Linked DNA regions of Homo sapiens. The protein of the gene in region 3 interacts with the protein of the main gene of each other region in a pairwise test. Each region holds a gene or a part of one and is shown on either strand. Other genes may lie near its edges. The genes, in order: PTPN11, ATP13A2 and CCKBR.

Evidence for each region.
Region 1: the proteins of CCKBR (region 3) and PTPN11 interact in binary tests that used the Homo sapiens proteins (3 or more experiments, as listed by UniProt).
Region 2: the proteins of CCKBR (region 3) and ATP13A2 interact in a two-hybrid assay, tested with the Homo sapiens proteins (one study listed by BioGRID and IntAct).

What each region holds. Positions count from the first base shown.
Region 1 is NC_000012.12:112,508,100-112,510,493, reverse strand, and holds the end of PTPN11 (tyrosine-protein phosphatase non-receptor type 11), read right to left. Parts: 3' UTR 576-2,394; downstream 1-575. UniProt on the Homo sapiens protein: Acts downstream of various receptor and cytoplasmic protein tyrosine kinases to participate in the signal transduction from the cell surface to the nucleus. Positively regulates MAPK signal transduction pathway. Dephosphorylates GAB1, ARHGAP35 and EGFR.
Region 2 is NC_000001.11:16,994,862-16,998,519, reverse strand, and holds part of ATP13A2 (polyamine-transporting ATPase 13A2), read left to right. Parts: intron 1-1,344; coding exon 1,345-1,500; intron 1,501-2,023; coding exon 2,024-2,134; intron 2,135-2,219; coding exon 2,220-2,266; intron 2,267-2,355; coding exon 2,356-2,544; intron 2,545-3,658. UniProt on the Homo sapiens protein: ATPase which acts as a lysosomal polyamine exporter with high affinity for spermine. Also stimulates cellular uptake of polyamines and protects against polyamine toxicity.
Region 3 is NC_000011.10:6,269,724-6,272,671, forward strand, and holds the end of CCKBR (gastrin/cholecystokinin type B receptor), read left to right. Parts: coding exon 1-197; intron 198-364; coding exon 365-614; intron 615-922; coding exon 923-1,080; coding exon of another isoform or gene 1,081-1,287; coding exon 1,288-1,820; 3' UTR 1,821-2,404; downstream 2,405-2,948. UniProt on the Homo sapiens protein: Receptor for gastrin and cholecystokinin. The CCK-B receptors occur throughout the central nervous system where they modulate anxiety, analgesia, arousal, and neuroleptic activity.

The DNA.
Region 1 (2,394 bases), on a different chromosome or scaffold from region 3:
ATAATTTACTCCTCCTCCAAGCCTCCTTACCATCCCTTTACTTCTTATTCCCACCTAATACTATTTACATTCAGTTCTGTGTGTTTTCTAACAATTTCCTCTGTGTGTGTGTGTGTGTGTGTGTGTGTGTATGTGTGTGTGCGCGCGCGTGCGCGCACATATATATTTTTGGGGGGCATGCAGTGAGAGTAGGTGAGAAAGGGTCTCACTATGTTACCCAGACTGGTCTAAAACTCCTGGGCTCCTGGGTTCAAGGAATCCTCCCGTCTCAGCCTCCAAGTAGCTGAGATTACAGGGGCGCGCCACCATGCCCAGCATTTCTTCTATAGTTTACACAGACTATACTTTTTACTCTTGAGTTACTCATATGTTCTCCCAGATAGAACTCCCTATCTCCTAAAGCTATTTCTACAGGAAACACTCAATGAATTCTTCAGGAACTCATGCCTTTATTCTATGTTCCAAGTCACTTCTAGATAAGAGCTGCTAAATGTCAGTATTTTGCCAGTGTGAGAGGTGGAGTGACCAATAATCCCATTTTTTTCCTGGACATTTCTGATGAAGCAAACGACAAATGCCATCATATAAGAAAATGGTTTTATTCCTAATTTTTAGTTCCCATACAGTTTACAAATACACTTTTACTCTGATAATACAGCTTTGCAACTAGCAAAGCAGTTGCGCTAACACCCATAAATATAGGTGGGGAGACAATTAACATCCACTAATGTTTCTCTACATAAACTATTCTTTTAATGTCATTTTTTTAAGAACAGTTGCAAATAGACTACATAATATACGTGGGCAAAAAGGCAATTAAGTGAATCTCTTGAAACACTAAATGTATAATAAACAGCATATTATCAACATTTACATGATTCACATCAAAATGATGACATCCTAAAACGTATTCCTTTTAAAGGATAGATTTATCAATAAAATATTACATATCTTTTAATACTCTGGTACAATACTTCATATACTGCAGGAAAATTAATTGTAGGTCTAGTCATCAGCTTAATCAGGGATCCTTTTCCCATTAGCTTTTATTAATAAAAGAATCACAATTAGGTCATAAATAAACAGGCAAATTATTAATTACATGATTTGAGGCTTAGGATGAAAACTTGTCAAAATTAGTTTGATATACAGCAAAGTTATACAACACACTAAAACCAACTGTTCAATAGTTTTTGCCTTGTGTGAACTGCCCATAGTGAAAAAGGAACAAATTTTTAGTGATGAAAGATACAATAAACTATATTTTGGAACTTTTCAAGAGGAAGAAGGAAAAAAGATTTCAACAAAATTAAGGGCAAATACAGATCCTAACAAAGGCATCCTGACATCAGGGAGGCCATGTGCTTGCTATGTGTGAAAGTTGATCCCCCAACAACATACAGAAAACAAAAGCTGCACTGGCTTTGTAGTTATGTCTATAGTCTAAGTTTCCCTTATGGATACTAAGCTACAACAAAACACTTGACAATTGCAAACCTTTCCACATCCCCCTGAATTAAAAATAACTCAAGATGTTATTAGTTCTTAAAATCCCCAATAAAATAACCTCTAAAAATAATCTTGACCATTTTCCTGGCTGTTTCCCCGAAGCAACTTGGCTCTTTAAAGAATGCACACACACCAAGAAAGTCCTACCCGTGTCTCCTCATCCCCATTTAGCCACATTTGAAAAGACCTTGGTTTCAGTGGGAGAGATGACCATAAGTTTCAGAAGGGCCACACACTGGACATGAAGCGCCTTTTAGTTTTTTTTAAAAAAAGTTATTAAGACTGTGAAATTTGGCTTTTTTTTTAAACTCCAATACCTAATGTGCCAGATAATTCTTTCACCCCAAAATATAAAATCCTATGCTTATAATTTTAAAATCCTCAGTGAGCTATGGAATATTGTGCATATTTAATACCCACCAGCAACCTAGAAGTAGATGGCATCCATGTGTCTGTCACACCGACTTTCCAAACAACCTCATTCACCCATTACTGACTGCTCTGGCCCTGGGCGCTCTGACTTCCTCAGAAACCACCTCTTTGGAACTTTCCTTTCCACAACTTTTTTTTTAAAACTTCACCTCGAGCTTTCTCCATCATCCCAGCCTCTCTGCCTGATTCCATCTCATGTAAAGTAAACTCGTCTGAGAACCTGCGATCACCTTTTACCAAGCACATGATAAGCCGTAGCAACCTAGGGACTATGATAACTCTGGCCTTGGCCTAAGTTTACATAAGAACATGATAGTTTGCTGACCTCGTGGAGGGAAATCTAAATGAAATCAATATCTTATAACAAAACTAGCCAAGATCAGGTATTTCCATTCTGAGTATAAAAGCAACTGATCTTAAGCAACAGGCAGAGATGTTAATGCAGAAGATATA
Region 2 (3,658 bases), on a different chromosome or scaffold from region 3:
TATCACAAATCGTAGGCCAGGCGCAGTGGCTCGCACCTGTAATCCCAACACTTTGGCAGGCAGAGGTGGGTGGATTGCCTGAGGTGAGGAGTTCGAAAACAGCCTGGAAATCATGTTGAAACCCCATCTCTACCAAAAATACAAAAAATTAGCCAGGTGTAGTGGTGCACGTCTATCGTCCCAGGTACTTGGGAGGCTGAGGTGGGAGGATCGTTTGAGCCTAGGAGGTGGAGGTTGCAGTGAGCCGAGATCGCACCACTGCACTCCAGCCTGGGTGACAGAGTAAGACTCCGTCTCAGAAAACAAAAAAAAAGTAGTAATTGTGATCAGTATGATTTGTGGGCACACGCCCTGAGCCCTGCCCTCCACAAACTGTCCACACATACTTCATCTGCTCATCTCTTGTGAGGCAGACATGGCAGGATTGTCTGACTCCCTTGCAGGAATGTGCACACAGTAGGTGCTCAATAGTCCCAGCCTGCAGGCATTCAGTAAGGGAGTGCCACTGTTTGCTAGGCAGCCTGCCCAGGACTTCACAGGGCCATGGCGAGCATGCAGTGCTTTTCTCACTCCAACTCATGGAAATATTTGCCCCCTCCATGTAAATATTTCTCTCCCCTCCCCCTCCTCCTTCCCCCTCCCCTTCCTTACCCCATCCCCTCCCCTCCCCTCCTCTTTTGAGACAGAGTTTCACTCTGTTGTCCAGGCTGGAGTGCAGTGGCACGATCTCGGCTCACTGCAACCTCCGCCTCTCTGGTTCAAGTTATTACCCTGCCTTAGCCTCCCAAGTAGCTGGGATTACAGATGCCCACCACAACACCCGGCTAATTTTTGTATTTTAGTAGAGACAGGGTTTCACCATGTTGGCCAGCCTGGTCCCGAACTCCTGGCCTCAAGTGATCTGCCCACCTCAGCCTCCCAAAGTGTTGGGATTACAGGCGTGAGCCACCGCATCTGGCCCCTTGTAAATATTTCTGTTGGTTGGAGTTAGAAAAGCACTCCATGCATGTTATAAAATAATTCCAGCAGAAAGAGAACGACTCCCCCACCCTGCCCCACTGCACACATGATGCCCACACATGCTCTGTCTGACCCACCCCCCCCCGCTGGTTCCAGGGAGCTGGCTGCCACCTGCTTCCAGGAGTGTCTCCCTGTGCCTTTATATCTCCGTCCTCTCTGAGCCTCAGTGTTCCTCTCTGTAAAATGGGGCTGTGATTTCTTGTTCACACCTGGTTACAGAGTTAACTGAGACTTAGAGCTTGTGGGACAATTCTACACAGAACTCCTGGTTTGCTGGTGGGAGGGAGGGGTGTGGAGTGGTCCTCACACCACGTTCCCCACCAGGAGAGAGCATTCCAGTGCTGAAGACGGCACTGCCGGAGGGGCTGGGGCCCTACTGTGCAGAGACACACCGGCGGCACACACTCTTCTGCGGGACCCTCATCTTGCAGGCCCGGGCCTATGTGGGACCGCACGTCCTGGCAGTGGTGACCCGCACAGGTATGAGCCGGGAGGCTGGGCTTGAGAGAGATCCCGGGCTCAGCACCCTTGGGAGAGGTGGAGTGAGGCAGGGTGGGACCTGGAACCCTGGACCCCACGCCCACCTCTGCTGCTGCCCTGCTGTGGGACCTCGGGCCAGTTGCCCCCCATCTGGGGTCTGAGCATTCCCATCTTAGCAGAAGTTGGGCCAGACTAAGGCCAAGCATTGCAAGATCTGGAGGAGCCGCCGGGGTTACAGTGCTGGAGCGGGCAGGGATGTAGCGGGCAGGCAGGAGCCTTCCCTGTGTCTGGATTTTCAGTGGAACCACCCAGTGTTTAGATGCTATCCACTAGTTCCTTGTTTAAAGCCCTTAAAAAGCCTACAAGAGCCGGGCCAGACCTGTTAGGACTCCACACTGCTGATGGCTAATTTCACAAACATCATGTCTTGCAACTCCAGAGGCACGGGTCGGGAGGGCTAGGGGTGGGGAAGGCCTGCCCTCACCCTGGCTTCCCTGCCTTGGGGTCCCCGCCTCCTCCCCAGGGTTCTGCACGGCAAAAGGGGGCCTGGTGAGCTCCATCTTGCACCCCCGGCCCATCAACTTCAAGTTCTATAAACACAGCATGAAGTTTGTGGCTGCCCTCTCTGTCCTGGGTGAGTGGCCCCCTGCACCCTCCTCTGCCCATAGCCCCCCCCACCTGGGTCCCAAATCCCACTCAGTCCTTCGCTGTCCCCACAGCTCTCCTCGGCACCATCTACAGCATCTTCATCCTCTACCGAAACCGGGTAAGCCTTGGGGGTGGGGTGGGGGGTGCTGCCAGCAGGGCCCAGGGGCCAACCAGCCAGGTGCTCACATTCATGGTGCCCCCTGCCAGGTGCCTCTGAATGAGATTGTAATCCGGGCTCTCGACCTGGTGACCGTGGTGGTGCCACCTGCCCTGCCTGCTGCCATGACTGTGTGCACGCTCTACGCCCAGAGCCGACTGCGGAGACAGGGCATTTTCTGCATCCACCCACTGCGCATCAACCTGGGGGGCAAGCTGCAGCTGGTGTGTTTCGACAAGGTGGGGCCGCAGGTGGGGTTGGTGCAGGGGAGCGGGACAGCCACAGGCGCCCCAGTGAGGCCTCCACACCCGCGTTATTCTCTCAGCAGCACCCACAGGATGCCAGGTCCTGTCTAGGGATGGAAACCCCCAGAGGATCCACCCCATCCCACTCCTGCCCTCACTGGGCTCACGGTCTGGCAGATGAAATGTCTAGAATCATGTATTCATGTGTTCAAGAACTGGTGGGGGGCCGGGCGCGGTGGCTCACGTCTGTAATCCCAGCACTTTGGGAGGCTGAGGCAGATACATCACTTGAGGTCAGGAGTTCAAGACCAGCCTGACCAACATGGCAAAACCCCGTCTACTAAAAATACAAAAGTTAGCCAGGCATGATGGCACATGCTTGTAATCCCAGCTACTCGGGAGGCTGAGGCAGGAGAATCGCAGAGGTTGCAGTGAGCCAAGATCATGCCATTGTACTCCAGCCTGGGTGACAGAGCAAAACTCAAAAAAAAAAAAAAATTACTGGTGGGGACCTGGGGCCCTAGTGTGCATCCCGTGCTGCTCCCAACCCTTGGGGCCCAGCAGTGACCAACACAGGCATCCTTGTGGTCACTGGAGTGTGTGTGTCCCCCACCAAAGTAAGTGATCCAGGAGTGCACAAAGGAGCTGCTGGGGCTGAGGAGTGGGCAGTGGGTTTTAGGAAGGAAGCCAGTGGGATAGCTTGATGGGTTCTAGATGGGGACACTTCCTTAGAGAGAAGGCAGTCAAGGAAGCCCCCTGAGCAGGTCCCTCAGTGACCTCAGTGAGGGGCAGGTCGAGGAGAAGCAAGGGTAAAAGGTGGGAGTGTCATAGCACAGATGTACCGTGTGCCTGGGGCACAGGGAGTGGCGTGGCACAGATGTGCTGCGTACCTGAGCACAGGGAGTGGTGGAGCAGGACAGGGCCGGGTAGGCAGTGGCCTGGTTGACAGAGGCTAGGTGACATTCAGAGGCTGTCGGGGGCCACAGAGCGCTTTTAAACTGGGGAGGGGGCCCAGCGCAGTGGCTCATGCCTGGAATCCCGGCACTTCGGGAGGCCGAGGCGGGTGGATCATGAGGTCAGGAGTTCAAGACCAGCCTGGCCAATATGG
Region 3 (2,948 bases):
TGGAGGAAATATGCTCATCATCGTGGTCCTGGGACTGAGCCGCCGCCTGAGGACTGTCACCAATGCCTTCCTCCTCTCACTGGCAGTCAGCGACCTCCTGCTGGCTGTGGCTTGCATGCCCTTCACCCTCCTGCCCAATCTCATGGGCACATTCATCTTTGGCACCGTCATCTGCAAGGCGGTTTCCTACCTCATGGGTGGGTGAGACAACCACCCCACCCCCACTTGCCACTCTCCCCGCCTAAAGCTCTTGTGGATGTAGGGGTCTTCCCCGGTTGGCAGGGAGGGGTGTGAGGAAGTCCCACTGATGCTTGTGTAGTGCAAGTTTCCTAGGTGACTCCTTCCTTTCTCTTCCCTTGTTTAGGGGTGTCTGTGAGTGTGTCCACGCTAAGCCTCGTGGCCATCGCACTGGAGCGGTACAGCGCCATCTGCCGACCACTGCAGGCACGAGTGTGGCAGACGCGCTCCCACGCGGCTCGCGTGATTGTAGCCACGTGGCTGCTGTCCGGACTACTCATGGTGCCCTACCCCGTGTACACTGTCGTGCAACCAGTGGGGCCTCGTGTGCTGCAGTGCGTGCATCGCTGGCCCAGTGCGCGGGTCCGCCAGACCTGGTGAGCTTGCCCATAAACTATCCTAGGAATTCCTTTCTCACCCCTATTAGATGCTTACGACCATTGCCCAGAATCTTCCTCCAGCTTCCCGGAGAATTACCACGCCAACTCCTATTCTGCATCCACCACCCTGGAGTTCCAGTTTGGGGCCCCTCCCCAGTTCTCTCTCCCTTCCCAGCGGCACCCCCAAATCCTACTCCTACTTCAGGTACCTGGCCACAGCCCTAGAAACACTAGTCCTTGGCTTTTTCTCCATCTGTGATTACAGCTGGACAGAAACCCGAGTGATCTGTCTGTGTTGCCTTCAGGTCCGTACTGCTGCTTCTGCTCTTGTTCTTCATCCCGGGTGTGGTTATGGCCGTGGCCTACGGGCTTATCTCTCGCGAGCTCTACTTAGGGCTTCGCTTTGACGGCGACAGTGACAGCGACAGCCAAAGCAGGGTCCGAAACCAAGGCGGGCTGCCAGGTGGGGCTGGACCACGTGAGCAAAATCTGGGCGAGGCGGAGCTTTGGAGGGCGACGGGGCCTGCTGGAGTGGGTGGGACTGAAATGAAGGTGAGGGTGAGAAGGAAGCTGGAAATGGAGTTGAGCTGGGAGCGGAGGTCAGGTGGGGACTGGGCTGGAGACTGGGGGGACTCGCCTTTTTCTCTGACCGCCCACCCTTTGTGCTCAGGGGCTGTTCACCAGAACGGGCGTTGCCGGCCTGAGACTGGCGCGGTTGGCGAAGACAGCGATGGCTGCTACGTGCAACTTCCACGTTCCCGGCCTGCCCTGGAGCTGACGGCGCTGACGGCTCCTGGGCCGGGATCCGGCTCCCGGCCCACCCAGGCCAAGCTGCTGGCTAAGAAGCGCGTGGTGCGAATGTTGCTGGTGATCGTTGTGCTTTTTTTTCTGTGTTGGTTGCCAGTTTATAGTGCCAACACGTGGCGCGCCTTTGATGGCCCGGGTGCACACCGAGCACTCTCGGGTGCTCCTATCTCCTTCATTCACTTGCTGAGCTACGCCTCGGCCTGTGTCAACCCCCTGGTCTACTGCTTCATGCACCGTCGCTTTCGCCAGGCCTGCCTGGAAACTTGCGCTCGCTGCTGCCCCCGGCCTCCACGAGCTCGCCCCAGGGCTCTTCCCGATGAGGACCCTCCCACTCCCTCCATTGCTTCGCTGTCCAGGCTTAGCTACACCACCATCAGCACACTGGGCCCTGGCTGAGGAGTAGAGGGGCCGTGGGGGTTGAGGCAGGGCAAATGACATGCACTGACCCTTCCAGACATACGAAACACAAACCACAACTGACACAGGAAACCAACACCCAAAGCATGGACTAACCCCAACGCACAGGAAAAGGTAGCTTACCTGACACAAGAGGAATAAGAATGGAGCAGTACATGGGAAAGGAGGCATGCCTCTGATATGGGACTGAGCCTGGCCCATAGAAACATGACACTGACCTTGGAGAGACACAGCGTCCCTAGCAGTGAACTATTTCTACACAGTGGGAACTCTGACAAGGGCTGACCTGCCTCTCACACACATAGATTAATGGCACTGATTGTTTTAGAGACTATGGAGCCTGGCACAGGACTGATTCTGGGATGCTCCTAGTTTGACCTCACAGTGACCCTTCCCAATCAGCACTGAAAATACCATCAGGCCTAATCTCATACCTCTGACCAACAGGCTGTTCTGCACTGAAAAGGTTCTTCATCCCTTTCCAGTTAAGGACCGTGGCCCTGCCCTCTCCTTCCTTACCCAAACTGTTCAAGAAATAATAAATTGTTTGGCTTCCTCCTGAACTTCCTTTCTGGATTCTTCTGGGGCAGGTGAGGAGGCATAGGATTTTGCAGTATCCTTCTGTCGGGTCTCTCCCACTGTTGCACACTGCTGTGCACAACCCCTTGCCAGAAAGCCCAGCCTCTGAGGTTCAGCGTGGCTGTGCATATTCTTTCTGAGTTTTCATCCTCTACCTACATTCCAATGTTGCAATAACTGTGAATGGGGATGGAAAATGGCATATCCATGACATATCATGATTCCTGATCACATTATCCCAAAGTGGTGCCACTGTTAAGGTACTATATTAATGGATGCTTATTAAATTTTGATGAAAAGATAAAAGAGGAAGCACTGTATAATAAGACTAAGTTTATTCAATGTGTGTTTGAAACACCAGAGATCAGACCATGACAGGTATACAGAATGAATACAGTTAATTAAAGAGTAGGGATTTTTTGCTGTACTCTCTTCCCCAGTGTCAAAACCTGGCCAAGATTCTGCCAAATGGAAGCACTTTTAGTAGCTACAACAAAAAAAGACCTGAATAGGAGTCTGAGAACCCAG